2 separate regions of the Homo sapiens genome follow, and region 2 is linked to region 1. Evidence: fine-mapped expression QTL. Tissue or cell type: whole blood. Region 1 holds a variant in brackets; the other region holds the start of a gene. All regions are shown on one strand. Distances are between the middles of the regions.

What was found. PIP is the estimated chance that this variant, and not a neighbour inherited with it, causes the effect.
Region 2: IAH1 starts here. The variant in region 1 is fine-mapped to the expression of IAH1 in whole blood (TOPMed, PIP above 0.99).

Annotation. Positions count from the first base shown.
Region 1 is chr2:9,657,781-9,665,961 of GRCh38, reverse strand. All of the region lies in intron 3 of LOC105373418 (a long non-coding RNA gene), which reads right to left. LOC105373419 (a long non-coding RNA gene) reads right to left here and starts at 5,485. Exons shown (of 2, transcript XR_922779.2): 1 at 5,125-5,485; 2 at 4,679-4,956. RefSeq lists an enhancer at 7,715-8,181. The variant G/A (reference allele first, on the strand shown) is at 4,422.
Region 2 is chr2:9,469,558-9,477,738 of GRCh38, reverse strand. It overlaps IAH1 (isoamyl acetate hydrolyzing esterase 1 (putative)), which reads right to left and starts at 3,188. Exons shown (of 6, transcript NM_001039613.3): 1 at 3,092-3,188; 2 at 1,700-1,752. The coding sequence starts at 3,172. CPSF3 (cleavage and polyadenylation specific factor 3) reads right to left here. Exons shown (of 18, transcript NM_016207.4): 17 at 6,300-6,396; 18 at 4,638-4,823. The coding sequence ends at 4,722. RefSeq lists enhancers at 1,569-2,129, 2,610-3,377 and a silencer at 2,647-3,416.

The DNA of each region.
Region 1 (8,181 bases):
GACAAATGTCAGTGAAAGGCAGGAGCCAGAGACTGAGCTGGTGTCATCCACAACGACTGCCACAGCCACTCACTTCCCCCTGCAGGGACAGGTTACCCTGGGGACCATGGGGTCATATCACCTGGTCAGGGCCAGGGACATGCTGCCTGGACATGGCTCTGCAGTCCGGGTTAACCCTTCACTTCCACTGGCACATTTTCTTTTTCCTTTCTTTCTTTCTTTTTTTTTTGACATGACGTCTCACTCTATCGCCCAGGCTGGAGTGCAGTGGTGTGATCTCGGCTCACTGCAACCTCCGCCTCCCAGGTTCAAGCAATTCTCCTGCCTCAGCCTCCCAAGTAGCTGGGACTACAGGTATGTGCCACCACGCCCAGCTAATATTTGTATTTTTTAGTAGAGATGAGATTTCACCATATTGGCCAGGCTGGTCTCGAACTCCTGACCTTGTGATCCACCTGCCTCGGCCTCCCAAAGTGCTGGGATTACAGGCGTGAACCACTGCGCCTGGCCCACATTTTCTTATTTAATCTATTAGGAGTACTGATTCGTTAATTAAGTCAGTAAGTCCTTCTCCTCCTGCTCCTTTTCTGGAAGACATTTTGCCTTTGAAGTGGATTTTATCTATCATGCACTGCCTAACTAGCTTGACTCTTGGTCTCTGGACATGTCTCCAGACATGTCTCCCAGTCACCAATGGGCCACCTCCAAGGCAGGACCTCCATTGTGCCAACTCAACAAAGCAGGCTGGGCTACGTGTCCAATAAGTGCTGTGGAACAGCAGAAGGGAGAGCCTTTACTCAGCTCATCCAAAGAACTTCATGGAACGGGTGGGATTGGTACAGGTTTTGGAGGATGCTGGAATTTGAATAGGCAGAAAGAAGAGGGAGGTGGTATATTTAGGTGAGCAAAGACTTGGAAGAAGGCAAGAAGAAAGAGGGGACAGGCCTGCTAAGGAGAAAGCTATGAAGGAGAATCTGGGGAGGTTAGAGCCAAAGGAGCTCATGCAATGGCAACGGGGAGCCATGGAAGGCTTTTGGGCGGGAGTGACACGATCAAAGTATGATTTTAGGAAAACTAAGCTGGCAGTGGAAGAAGAGTCTGGTTTTAGGCAGATCAAATGCCAAGTAAAAGATTCCCAGAATAGAATTATAAATAGAGTTTCCACAAATACAAAAACTCTTGCCCTAGTTCACCCTAGCATCTATCTGTCTGTGGAGGGGGATCAGAATTTGTCATAAATGGAACTCCAAGAGAAGGGTAAAAAGGTAATATTGTGTTGCTATATTCAAAAATAGCATTAAGCAGCAAAAACACATTTTGCAAGCCAGACTGTTACCTAAAGAAAGGATCCCCCAAGTTTCTTTCTTCCTTCGGCGTGTCAGCATGTGGGCTTGGAGGACTCAGCCCACAGAGTTCCCCTGCAGTGCATAGGAGAGATCCCACTTCATCATTAAAGCTTAGCTGGAAGCAGAATGAAGGAAGATATGATGTAGGAGAAGTAAATGAAAAGCCCACATTTTTTCTGGCTTGGTAGATGGAGGAGAGAGAAAAAAGAGAGTGAGGAGACAAAGCAGGCAGGTGTGGGACCCCCCGTATCCCTGTCAAGGCTTGCACTGGGACAGGGAAAGGGAGCATTAAATAAGTTCAAGGTTGACGTCAAGGACAGATGATCACATGATCATATCCAGTCTGCCTGCCATGGCAGGATGAGGTGTCTCATGGCAGAAGCTGGGGAGGGCAGCTGGGCAAGAGGGCAGGGGCAGGACAGGGCAGACACTCAGGGGCTTCCCTAATCACGTAAGGGAAGACCAGGTCACAAGGCACTCCAGCCTCAGATGTCAGTGGGGCAAGAGGAATTCAGGTGGGTCAAACTCATCACCCAGGGAACAGAGTGGGAGTGGACACCATCATCGAGGACTACAAGTGTTTGCTGTTGCTGTAAGCAAATGTAAACCCTTCTCTGATACCACCAGACACCATCTTGAAGCCAGAAGAGGTGAAGGACAGGCAGTCTTAGAGACTGAGTATCTGTATCCAAATGCAAGACAGTTTCCTAAAGAGGCCAATTCAGTGAACAGATGGAACCATGTTTAAACAAGATGGAATATAGAATTAATTTTTTCCACTAATCAGTGGGTGGGGGTGGGTGGACCTCAGGAGAACAGACCATGTTAAAGATGGAAAATTTTTAAATTGCACTCACTTTCCCCTGCACATCAGAGTGGCAGTGAGTTACATTTTGCTCTACCAAAGTATGAACTAGGTAGAAGAGACAGGAAGCTATGGGGTCAGAAAACTGGGCCAACATTTGGCTATGCCCTCAAATTGTACCTAGAAAACCCAATAATCTTACAGAATGTGGTGAACCTGTGCATGTCTCGTTTCTGCTAAAGCCGCTGTTAATAAGAACATCTGTCTCTCCCTCTGAGATGAAGCAGGGTTACAGGTGGCAAACGTCCAGCACTAATTAGCACTCTGCAATAAGCAGCTCTCCATCTTGAGGGGTAACGTCCCTATCTCTCCCCATCTCATGCCTCAGCTCTCAAAGAAACAAGCCCATAAACTGGGGATGGATCAACACTTCACAACCCGTATCATCATGCAGTGTGCAGCTCTTGTGTATATCCTAGTGGAAGCTGAGTTTGTTGGCTAATAGGATACAAGACAGGAAGAGCTTAGAATCAAGGGTCCAGTAGACAGAGGAGTAGGCAAGACCGTCTCTATTACTTTCTCCTCTGAGACTGAGGACAAGTCACACAAATGTGGTCAGAAACTCATGTTCTGAGAACTGAGAGAGCCAGCGGTAGGAGAGTCATTTTTAGTTGCAAAGAAACATTGCAGTGGATTGAACTGATGAGAGACAGGCTGCTTGCTGGAGTCTCAGCAACCAGCTTTTCTGAAAGGAAAGAGAGGTGGGTGACCACACTGCCAGCACCTTCTCCTGACTGTCTTGCATTTGCTCCTCCGTCATTGGAACCTGATAACCAATTCTTCGTATAGTAAGGGGATACTACTGAAGTTTTCAGTATTGTTAACATCAATCAAAACAGTTGTTATGTTGCCTTCTTATATGTACATTGAAAAGCTTACTGCATTTATTTTCAATGTGAAGGGTACGTGATAGCAACCTTAAAGGAAAAAAAAAGTTTAAAAATCAAAATCACCCATAATCCCAATATTCTAACTCAAAACAGCCTTTTCCTGTTTTGCACATTACCTTCCACATCCACACTTGCTTTACAACCTTGTAATCAAGTGTATAGACAGTATGGTATTCCCCTTTTGTTTTCATTAATGATATGTCAAAAGCATTTTCCCACATTTTCATAAAAATGATTAATAATGGGGCTGGGCACGGTGGCTCACATCTGTAATCCCAGCACTTTGGGAGGCCAAGGTGGGCAGATCACTTGAGGTCAGGAGTTTGAGACCAGCCTGGCCAACCTGGTGAAACCCCATCTCTACTAAAAATACAAAAAATAGCCAGGCATGATGGCACGCGCCTGTAATCCCAGCCACTCAGGAGGCTGAGACAGGAGAATCACTTGAACCCGGGTGGTGGAGGTTGCAGTGAGCCGAGATCGCACCACTGCACTCCAGCCTGGGCAACAGAGCGAGAATCTGTCTCAAAAAAAAAAAAAAAAGATGAATAATGGCTACAATCTATTTCCTCATATGTCATATCATGATTTACACCATGTGTTTTCTAAGTTCAAAGCAGAGGCTCTGTCCCACCTACCACTGTGGCCACCACGGTGCTCTGTCATAATGGAACCTCAACAGACCTGTCAGGACATCATGTCCAAGATCAATAATCAATAGCATGACAGCATCAGTATTCATCTTGGCCTTTGTCAGCCTCCAAGGTTTCCCGCCTCATCCCACAGCTGCCTCCACCTATTAATAAGGTCTCTCCTCCCTCAGCCCATTTCCTACACAGAAGTGGAAATCCCAGGTAGGCACACTGGCTCACACTTGGCAATCCCAGCACTTTGGGAGGCCGAGGCAGGAGGATCACTTAAATTCAGGAGTTCAAGACCAGTCTGGGCAACATAGTGAGACCCTGTCTCTATAAAAAATAAAAATAAAAAAGTATCCAAGTGCAGTGGTGCATACCTGTAGTCCTAACTACTCGGGAGGCCAAGGCAGGAGGATCGCTTGAGGCCAGGAGGTCAAGGCTGCAGTAAGCCATGTTTGTGCCACTGCACTCCAGCCTGGGCAACAGAGTGAGGCCTTGTCTCTGGGGGGAAACCCTAGAGGCCCACCACAGTCCCAGCCCCTTCCAGGCAGGCCTGAAAGGAACGGCAACCACAGAGCCACGGATGGTTCCAGAGGGCTGCAGCAGCGGAACAGCAAGCCCCACTGCCCTGTGTTCCGAATTGGTCACAGCCGTGTCCGTTCGTGTTGTGGCCCTGGCCAAG[G/A]CTGTGGTCATTGCCCAGTTCTCAGCTCCTGTTTATTTCCCACGCCTGTCTCTGCAGCCCTCTGGCAAGTCTAAGGGCTACCCAATATACTGTCAATAAATCTCTTTTCTATGTCAACTAGCCTGAGTCTGTTTCTGTTTCTGTTGTTTGCAGAGACAACAGAAACAGACTAGTTCAATCCTCATTTTCTATTCCTATCAAAGTCTGTCCAAGAGAGAACTGAAAATCTATTTCCACTGAGGCAGAAAAGTACTCTCTCTCATTCATACAAAGCTTTACTACATACAATATTCTTTTTTCATTATGCATGCTGTCTTTTGATTTGTCAAGTCGAAGCATTATAACTTACCTATATGTATTATGTTCAACTAAAAGATAAGAAAAATAGGGCCCAGAGTGGCTCAGTGAATGATCCAGGGTCACACAGTAAATCATCGAGTCTTCTAATTCGAAATTCCGAGCTATCTTCACTTATCAGGCTACCTCCCACTTCAACAGGCTCGATTTCAGGCATTGCAGGATGGCAGGAAACTAACTGGGGGTAGGGAGAGGGAATACAGAATGGGGGAGGCTTCTCAGATGGAGAAATTAGAAGGAGTAGGCATATAGAACAAGCAGTGATTTCTGCCAGTTGAGGGGGAAAGAAGTCTTGGAGACACATTCACATGCATACACTCACACACTCACACTCACACACACTCACCCGGCTTACACGCCCTCTCTGCTTTTCCATTACGATGTGCTAAGCCTCCCATGAATTGGTGAGCAGCCACCCAGTCCGGCAAAGCACACCTTTGATGAGCTTCTATTTCTGTGACACTAAGTATTCCATCCTGTGGACTTGAAAACCTAACACCCTCAGTTGAAATGACTCACACATTGAGACCCTGGTGAGGTAGAGGGAACGAGTTTGGTATGAGGGCAGCCAGACCCCCGCCTCCTGCTGCTGAACGACCCTCGCGCTACCTGCAGGCGGGAATTCAACCAGCTTTGGAAAGGTTCAGACATAAATGCAGGGAGCAGCCCCGAACAGGTGACAAAGAAACGTGAGAGGTAGGCCCCTGACTGTGTGAGGCAGACCCCTAGCATTGTAAGGCTGAAATCACAGAAGACGAGTAGAGGCCCCTCCCACAGATCCACTGCCACTGACGGAATAGCGGGCTCCGCCGGGCCCACGCAACACAGTGGGAAGCACACAGCAGTGCCGGAGACGCCAACGTGCCAAAACGAGAAAGCGAGGAAGCTGCATCCAGCTGAGCTCTGGAGCTAACCATGATTTATTAGACACAGGAAGGTGTCTTAGCTTGGGTTCCATCGAGAGAAGAGCCTGGGACCGGGATTTGGGAGCAGGTCATTTATTTGGGAGATGGTCTCAGGAAGGAGTGTGGGAGGGTGAAAACCCAGAAGAAAAGACAATGAGTGTGTGTTACTGACAAAGGGTGGGCACCCTGTTTTAATACATGAATGATGAAGATTAAGTATAATGTATGGTAATAAATAATAATAATAATAAAGGCCCACAAAGGATGGTTACTATTGTGGGTAATAGAGGCTCAGTCTTGCTGGGGATCCTCTGAAGAACCATGCAGAATGTACCTCAGAGTTATCCGACCAGAGGATGGGGAAGTTGGAGAATGTAGGTACCACTGGGTTTTTTGTTTGTGTGTGTGTGTGTGTGTGTTTTTGAGATGGAGTCTCGCTCTGTTGCCCAGGCTGGAGTGCAGTGGCACCATCTCTGCTCATTGCAACCTCCACCTCCTGGGTTCAAACGATTCTCCTGCCTCAGCCTCCCAAGTAGCTGGGATTACAAGGATGTGCCACCACGCCTGGCTAAATTTTGTATTTTTAGTAGAGACAGGGTTTCACCATGTTGGCCAGGCTGGTCTCAAACTCCTGGCCTCAAGTGATCTACCCACCTTGGCCTCTCAAAGTGCTGGGATTACAGGTGTGAGCCACCATGCTCAGCCCCATTGGATTTTTCTTTTTGTTTTTTTTTGTTCTTTGTTTTGTTTTGAGACAGAGTCTCACTCTGTGGCCCAGGCTGGAATGCAGTGGTGCAATCACCGCTCATTGCAGCCTCAACTTCCTGGGCTCAAAGGATCCTCCTGCCTCAGCCTCCTGAGTAGCTGGGACTACCGGCACATGCCACCATGCCCAGCTAATTTTTAATTTTTTTTGTAAAGGCAAGGTCTTATTATGTTGCCCAGGCTGGTCTGGAACTCTTGAGTTCAAGTGATCCTCCCACCTCGGCCTCCTAAAGTCTGGGATTACAGGCATGAGCCGCTGTGCCCAGCCATTTCATTGGTTAATGGTTGTCCTGGGAGCGTTAGTCCTTCCCCCATTACCTCCCTCTCCCGACGAACACACACGATGTTCAGGAGAAAACCATGAGTCAGTGAAGCAGAATAACAGCTGCAGTGCTTAACGTGGGGCCACAATTTCCAGAATGTAAGCAATGCTGAAACCAGGCATGCCCAGGCAGTGTGGCATGCAAACCTCTGCTACCCCGGGATGGAGGAGTGTGCTCAATGTCACCGTGGGGATGCCATCAGCCAAATCCAAACAACTGTGGAAAATGTCTGCAGGACTCATGGCCTGGTTTCTTCCACAATTAAATGGCATTTAAAAAAACAAAAACAAAAAAAAGAAGGGGAACAGACATAAGAAACATACCCATCCAACACCACACTTACTCTTTTAAGGATCCTAATTTGAACAAACCAACAGTAAAAAGACTGTTTTGAGACAACTGAGGAAAACGGAATGTGGCCTACATGTGGGATAATATTAAGAAACTTATTGGCTGGGCGCAGTGGCTCATGCCTGTAATCTCAGCACTTTGAGAGGCCAAGATGGGAAGATCACTGGAGCCCAGGAGTTTGAGAACAGCTTGGACAACGTAGGGAGACCCTGTCTCTACAAAAAATTTAAAAATTAGCTGGGCGTGGTGGCATGTGCCTGTGGTCCCAGCTACTCAGAAGACTGAGGTGGGAGGATTGCTTAAGCCCAGGAGGTCGAGGTTGCAGCGAGCTGTGATGCTCCAGCCTAGGCGACAGAGCAAGACGCCATTTCCCCCCACCCACCCCCCTCAAAAAAGAAAAAGAAATATATTCTGTTAGGTCTGAGAATGGCATGTAGTTGAGTTTGTTTTTTTGAAGTCCTTTCCTATTAGAAATCTATACTGAAATCTTGATGGATGAAATTACATGATGACTGAGATTTGCTTTAAAAGACTCTAGCAAAAAAAAAAATGTTGGTGCGAGTGTAGATGAACTAAAAATAGCAAAATGATGATCATTGTTGAAGCTGGGTGGTAGGTATAATATGGTAGTATGCAATTTTCTCTACTTTTATGAGAAATGTCTATAAACAAGGTTACATTTGGGAAAAAAAAGGAAAGCAATAATAGGCTCCAGGAGGCATCATCTATCCACTGCTCGTTTACTGAGTAGCTTTTTTGCGTGTTCAAAGATGAGTGAGACAATCTCTACCCTCTGTGAGCAGAAGGTGGAGGGACAAAGAGGAGTTAAGTCCTCAAGCCTTGCGTGCAGTTAAGAAACAATACCACACCACCCCTGGAGGCCACCTCGCAGCAGTGATTAACCAACTTCCATGGCAGTAACATTGACAGTGAGTGCTGGATGGAGTCTGCACTGGAGAAGAGAGAAAAGGTGTGGGGCTTCACACCTTCCCCCATTCTGGAGCCTACAGCTTAATCGCCTGTATTAAAACCTTCCTTCTAAACCCTCATTTTTATAAA
Region 2 (8,181 bases), 190 kb after region 1:
ATACTTTTTGTTTCCTTCTTAAAAACAGTTGGATTCACAGTACTGTAGGTGTAATGGGGGAAAAAAAAAAAAAAGCCGGGTTGCCTGGATTTGTTTCTCGGCTCCCTGTGTGACTAGGCGTGACCCTGGGCACGCTGTGCTCCTTCCTCACATGTAAAGTGAGGAGAATCCCAGTTAAGGATTCGCATCAGGCAGTAGGTTTGAAACCCCTCAGAGAATACCAGTCACATAAGAGGGACTCTTTTTTTCTTAGTCTTGGTAAAATGATATGATTTGGGATTTGCTTCAGAATAATCCATAGGAGGGATGGATGGGCTCATTTCACTCTTTGCTTCTGTAGATATTTAAAGTTGTCCATAAAGTTTTCTTAAAATGACGCCTGGGGTTCAACTTATGATTAGTAAATCAATATGGTTCATTTTGCTGTATTCACATTCCCATACATGCATAACCAAGCAGAGAAGCTGGGGCACCCGCGGAGAACTGCAGGCCACAGCGTCAGGCAGCGGCTCCAAAGCAGCACAAGGGGACACTTTCTGACACTGCTCAAAGTTCTCAGGTGGCATTTATAAACTGCAGAACCACCACCGAAACTCAGCCTTATTTCTAAGAGATTGTTTGTGTGTGTAATGATTATAAAATGCGACTAGCCATTTTACAGAGTGAAATCACAATACTTTAATGAAGTGCTGGGCTGGGTGTGGTAGCGAGTGCCTGTTGGTCCCAGCTACTCAGGAGGCTGAGGTGATGATGCCTTCAGCCCCAGAGGTGGAGGCTGCAGTGAGCCCTGATCACACTGCTGCACTCAAGCCTGTGTGACAGAGTTGTCAGGCCTCTGAGCCCAAGCTAAGCCGTCATAACCTGTTACCTGCACGTATACATCCAGGTGGCCTGGAGCAACTGAAGAACCACAAAAGGAGTGAAACAGCCAGTTCCTGCCTTAACTGATGACATTCCACCATTGTGATTTGTTCCTGCCCCACCCTAACTAATCAATCGACCTTGTGGCATTCCTCCCCTGGACAATGAGTCTCAGGAGCTCCCCACAGAGCACCTTGTGACCCCCTTCCCCTGCTAACAATAGATAACCACCTTTAACTGTAATTTTCCACTACCTACCCAAATCCTATAGTACTGCCCTACCCATCTCCCTTTGCTCTTTTCAGACTCAGCCCACTTGCACCCAAGTGAATAAACAGCCTTGTTGCTCACACAAAGCCTGTTTGGTGGTCTCTTCACGTGGACGCGCCTAACAAGAGACCCTGTCGCAAAACAAAAACCACCAAAAACCAAAACAAAGTGCGGTAGAATTGTGACAAGGTGAGTCTTAAGTCATGGCAGCACTTCAAAAAAAGGCAAAGTAGCTTCCTACCAGTGTGGTGTAGCAGTGAAACTGCAAGTTCTGCAGTCATAGCAGCTGGACTTGGATCTGTCTGCCCCTGACTAGGGAAGAGGCCTTGGCCATTTCCTTGATTTGTCTGAGTCTACCCAGCCATCAGTGCTCAACCCTAAAATATCTAATTGGTCAGACTGAGTGAAGAGTAAATGTTTTCTGTTCCTTCTCCTATATACTGATTAGGGGAGGCAAGCAAAATTAATAAAGGAGGAATGTTCTGTTCAGAACTATCCTTCATCCATAAGACGGATCCCTAAGACATTTTCCATCCATAAGAACTCAAGTATCGGAAACCATTCTCACCTGACCAGCCTGTCAGCCAGCGATGCTCCCCATCCACCCTGCTGGAAGGAAAACTGGAGGAAGAAAAGCCCATTATTACTACTAATGACTGTAACCGGGCATCTCAGCGAGGGCAGTTCTGATTGGCAACTTCTGTTTTCTCGGCGCTCCCTTCTTGGCTTTGATTGCTTCACTCCAGGAGGTCATTTTGGGGATTACAGGTAAGTACACCTGGCAGCACTTTAGCAGAGGGGGATTTTTCTCTATCAAAAGCTAAACAGCCTGTATTCCCAGCACTTTGGGAGGCCAAGGCGGGCGGATCACATGAGGTCTCGAGTTCGAGACCAGCCTGGTCAACATGGCGAAACCCCGTCTCTACTAAAATTACAAAAATTAGCCCGGTGTGGTGGCGCACGTCTATAATCCCAGCTACTCGGGAGGCTGAGGCAGGAGAAACGCTTGAATCCGGGAGGCGGAGCTTGCAGTGAGCCGAGATCGCGCTACTGCACTCCAGTCTGGGCGACAGAGCGAGACTCCGTCTCAAAAAAAGAAAAAAAGAAAAAAAAAAAAAAGCTAAACAGAAATCTAAGTTCAGGAAATAAAGTCAAAGGTCAGTGAGGAAATGAAGGCCACACCGCCTCACTGCTTTGCTGGTTACCGAGCTGAGGGTGAACACTTTTTCATACACATTCCCATGGAATTCGGCAGCTCTGACTGCCCCATATGCCTAAACATAATGTTACCAGTTACTGGCGTATACACAAAAGCCTGGTGAAGCAAGTCCTGTCTGAGAAGAGGACACACACAGGAATGGAATTTCTACTCCCTCCCCGAAGTAAGAACCTGCATTTAGAAGACCGTTCCCTTCATGGGAGGTGAGATGATCTTGGATGAACGGATGGTCCTTTTCTACCTAATTCCTGAAGGCGTTTTACTTCCAAGGTCAACCCCTAACGGCCCCACCTGTGCCCGCAGGGAATGGGGCGAGAGAGCTCCTGGCGCCTCTGCCCGGAGCTGGCCGCGGGGCCTCCTGGGACACAGCGCGCGGTCGCCCGCGGCCGCTAACCCGGACCCGGAGGGGAAAGGCCGCTGCCCAGGAGGGCGCTGAGGGGAAGACCGCGCATCTCGACCCGGGTGGGAGGCGGCGCGGGGCGGGCAGCGCGGCCGGGTCCCCTCGCGTCTGTGCCTGGAGCCCGGGCTCTCGCGGACGCCGTCGTGACCTCCGGGACGCCGCGGGCCCGGAAGGCGCAGCCACTGGGGGACCCGCCACTCCTCCGGTGTCTCCACGGGCGTGGCCAGGCCTCCGGCCCAGCCGTCTCGGGCGCCGAAGAGGACGGCGAGGAGCCTCGGCCTGCTCGGCAGCGACCCCGCAGGGAGGCCGGGGCGGGAGGCCGAGCGTCGGGGCGGCCGTACCTGGGTGATGGAGTCCCCGAAGAGCAACAAGCGAGGCCAGAGCAGGGCACTCCCGCAGCCCGCGGCCTCGCACAGCGCCATGGAGCAGCCGGGCGGGGCGGGGCGGGGCCGCCAGCCACGAGAGGCGCCTGCGCAGTGGCCGCCCGTGGGTTGCGGGAGCCGGGCTCGTGGGCACCCACGCAGTCACTTTGGTGACGCGCGAAGGTCGTTGCCCCTTGGAGTCCGTTTGCAAGAAGCTCGGCCTCCGCGCTTGCTCACCCACAGCAAGGCTGCCCCCAGGGAGTCCGGAGCCCGCGTCCCGCTGCGTGGTTCCCGGAAGAAAAGCGGTTGGGGGCCCTTCTAAGCCCACCCCGCGCTCCGCGGGCGCAGGTGCGTTCGGCAAAGGGCAGGAGTGTGACCTCAGGACGCGCGGCGGGAAGCACAGCTGGCTCTCGGTGGGGCGGAGGGCTGCTCCAGGCCCCCCTGGAAGAGGTCGTGGGATGCGCGCGCGGCCTCCTGCGCCCAGCGTCACTCTGGAGGGCCTGTAACACCCACGAGGACGCAGGCACTGCGGAAACCCTGGCAGTACCTCGTGGTTCTGCGAATGACAAGGGAAAGCAGCTGCACCTTCAGTGCGCGCGCAGCCGGCCGCTTTTCTTTTTCCCGCCGTGGGGTGGATGCGCAGATGCAGAACCCCGCGGACACGGAGCACTGACTAACTTCCAAGGGATTCACCTGTTAAAACGTGGTTGTAATGCAACGTTCTTACCTCAACTGTGCAATGAAGTTCGGCAGCCGAGCTAAAAACGAACGGGTGGGAAGGATGCCTTGAAATCACGGAGCTGTAGATGAGTAACAGAAGGGCCAGGGGCGCCGGCGCAGAGGCCGACCCCGCTCCCTGGGGCGGGGCGATGGGCGTAGAGCATGACTTTCTTTAGGTTGCTCGTCCCAAGCTCGCTTGGATCACCTGGGGGAGCTTTACAACTAAGATCCAACCTAGGGCCCTCATTCCAGCCGGACTAACTCACCTCCTGGTGGCAGGACTTGGGCACAGGTGCACTTGTGATGCACCCCACGTGATTCCCACGGGTAGCCCAGATTGAGAGCCCCTGCTAGAGCAAGCAAAGGTGCCTGGACTTCATCTTTATCACAAGGACTTCATTAAGGCCTTCAAGCAGCAGAGGCTTGAGGCCAGGTCTGTTCCAGGAATCAGCTATAGGGGAGGAGATGGAGGTGGTTGCAGGAATTCAGAGGGGAGAGTAGACTTGGACTCGAACAGCAGCAGTGGAGATGAAGACAGAAAAGATTCAAGTGCAACTTAGAATCCTTATTATTAACTCAAATTGGTTACCCCAGAGGAGAGGGTAACCAGCAGCGGTTGCTATCGGCAGATCTTGATGGTTTCAATGGGAGCTGCACATACATGCCTGGAAGAAGAATCCAAAATTCTAAAATAATGGGCAGTTGATCTAGTAGTTAGTTCTAGAATAATGGACAAATTAATTAGCAATTTAGCAGTATTCAGGCTGTTGAAATAAAGGCCATTTGACATTAAAAGTAAACAGGCTCCCCCAGAGAAACGAATGCATTTTATTTTAGGTAACAAAAGTAGAGTCAAGTATTTTTTCAAAGTTCATATACAGGCACAGTCTCAGTGAACTGGCGTCAGGGCCTCGTACAGTCTCTGTGCAGCCAGCTCCACCATTTCTCGGAGGGATTCATCGTCTTCACTTCCCTCTTCACATTCTACAGTCTGAAAGTGAGGCACAAACAAGACTGTTAGAATTAAGTCTATAATGATTATATAGAAGATAAATGAATACTCTTTAAAAAAACCATCATCTCATAAAAAATTAGCCAGCTGTGGTGGCGTGTGCCTGTGGTCCCAGATAAGAGTCTGAGGTGGGAGGATCACTGAGCCGGGAAGGTTGAGGCTGCAGTGAGCTGTGACTGCACCACTGCACTCCAGCCTGGGCGGCACTGCGAGACCGGGTCTCAAACTAAAAAAAAGAACAATCATCTGTGTGTGCAGAGGTCATGGTGGGACTGATTACCATGAAACAGAACGGCCGCCCTACACACTTGTGGGCGTGCAGTGCTTCCTGACAGCAGCACGGTCCTAATTAGTGATGACTTGAGGCTGGGGTGAAAGACTGGGGAAAGTCTAGTAAACTACATTTACATCAAAGCCCACAGTTTGATCTAGTAAATGATACTCCAGGGAAGTTCATCTATGCCACACAAATTACTTGGCAAGGAATGGATGTGGCTATCTACTCAACATTTGGTACTGAATTTGACTGAAACTCACTAATAATCTTCTAGTTGCTTCTTTTTTTTTTTTTTTTTGAGACAGAATCTCGCTCTGTCGCCCAGGCTGGAGTGCAGTGATGTGATCTCAGCTCACTGCAACCTCTGTCTCTTGGGTTAAGGTGATTCCTGGGTTCTCCTGCCTTAGCCTCCCAAGTAGCTGGGATTACAGGCACACCACCACGCCTGGGTAATTTTTGTATTTTTAGTAGAGATGGGGTTTCATCATGTTGGCCAGGCTGGTCTCAAACTCTTGACCTCAGATGATCCACCCACCTTGACCTCCCAAAGTGTTGGGATTACAGGCGTGAACCACCACGCCTGGCCTCTAGTTCTTTTTTTTTTTTTTTTTGGAGACAGAGTCTCGCTCTATCATCCAGGCTGGAGTGCAGTAATGTGATCTTGGCTCACTGCAACCTCTGCCTCCCTGTTTCAAGCAATTCTCCTGCCTCAGCCTCCTGAGTAGCTGGGACTACAGGCAGCTGCCGCCATTCCCGGCTAATTTTTTTTGTATTTTTTAGTAGAGATGGGGTTTAACTGTGTTGCCCGGGCTGGTTTTGAACTGTTTGGAAAATCCACTTGGATCTTGCTGGTGCAAACAGAAGAGCGGCTTCTTTAAAAAATGGAGAGTCAACTAGATGCCAAACTAGAGAAGGGATGAGGTGAACTAAGCTGTATTATGGAAGAGGACAGCAATGGAGTGGCATACACGCGAACCTTGTACTATGCAGTAACCCGGAAAAACACGGAAAACTTCAACCATAATAATATAAAAAGAACAATGTGAAAAAAATGTTGGAAACACTGGAAGCAAATGCCAATATGCAACAGTAGACTGTTGAGTGTGAGAGCACAGATTATTTATGCCTTCACTTTATTTCCCAAATGTCTTGAAACGTAGGAAAGAGCAGCTACATACCCGTGTCTCCAAGTTAAGGTTGGCAGTTTTCCCGTCCACTGTGACGCTAAGAATAGAGTCATCCTTTACACTTACACAGTCTTCTCCAAATATGTCCCTGAAAATAAGCAGAAATGCAGGATTAGTGAAAATGCCCGGCTTTATATATTTGAGGAAAAAATAAAACTGAAGATAGGTCCTAGTTCTAAAGCAGAATACTGTATTTACTTTTTTTCTTTTTTTTTTTGAGATGGAGTCTTGCTCTGTGGCCCAGGCTGGAGCGCAGTGGCACAATCTTGGCTCACTACAACCTCCGCCTCCCGGATTCAAGTGATTCTCCTGCCTCAGCCTCCCTAGTAGCTGGGATTACAGGTGTGCACCACCACAGCCAGCTAATTTTTGTATTTTTAGTAGAGTCAGGGTTTCACCATGTTGGCCAGGCTGGTCTTGAACTCCTAGCCTCAAGTGATCCACCTGCCTTGGCCTCCCAAAGTGTTGGGATTACAGGCAGGAGTCACCATGCCCAGCCTGTATTTACTTTTGAGACAAGCTTCTTATTTGCCTTGATACAGCTTATTAAGTTTATAAAACAGGGAAAATACACAGCTTTATTCAAGAATGATCTATTCAGCAGGCATCATGCTAGGTGGTTTATATACATTATCTTAACCTATAATTTTAGTAAGGATCCCCTTTTACATGTGAAGAAAACAAGACACAGAAGTTAAGTGATTTGCTTAAAGCCTCACAGCTAGTAAACAGCTGAGCCGGCATTCAAATCCAGGTATCTAGGTTTAAATGGCTCCCAAGCCCACTAGCTGTGCACTCCTACTTTAATTAAACTTGGTATTTATTGAGCATCTTCTGTGTGGCAGATTCCTTCTGTGCTAGTAGCTGGGGATAAAGAAGGCACTAAGACATTGCCTCTGTCATCGAGAGAAACAGTTTTGATGGTTAATTTCAACATCGTCCCCATTGGTACAGAGGTGTTAGGAAACAGCAGTCCACCAGCAGGCTGAATGCAGGTAAGAAAGGCAGGCAGTGACTCTAAACAACCCATGGACCATGGTCAGCCTAGGACAGTTAAGCACTGACAACACTGTATTAAGCGGGGGAAGTGGGGAGTGGGAATCAACTCCTTGCATCTTCAGGCAGTTACTGCTCATCATATGTGTGAATAAACTTAGGTGGGACCCTAGCACAAAGGAAAAGATTATATTTTATTTTATTTATTTATTTTGAGACGGAGTCTTGCTTGTTGCCCAGGCTGGAGTGCAGTGTCCCGATCTCGGCCCACTGCAACCTCTGCCTCCTGGTTTAAGCAATTCTCCTCCCTCAGCCTCCTGAGTAGTTGGGATTACAAGCACCCACCACCACACCTGGCTCATTTTTGTATTTTTAGTAGGGGTATTTTGGATGGGGTTTTGCCATGTTGGCCAGGCTGGTCTCGAACCCCTAACCTCAAGTGATCCACCTGCCTTGGCTTCCCAAAGTGCTGGGATTACAGGTGTGGGTCACCACACCCAGCCAAAAAAATTATATTTTAAACACAGAAATGTATTCAAAAGGATAGGAAAAAAGGTTCCATTTTCATGTGATCCACTGTTGGCTTCTCTGAAGAAACCAATACATCTACTCCTATCTAATCCTAAGTGTTTAAACAACTGGGGAAATAGCTGCATTTTTAAGGGTACGATTGGCTTTGAAGTTTAAGGACATGGGAACCTCCCATTCCTGGCCGAATGGAAGCTGTCTCATACTCCTGTTCCTCAGAGTTGAATAGTTCTGGTGTGTTTGTGGGAGGTGAGGGAGAGGGAGGGGAGGCGGGAGGAGTGGTGTCAGGAGGACAGGGAAGAAGGCCAGAGTGAAAGTCCAGTGGAAGGGCCGCAGCCTCCCGCAGACT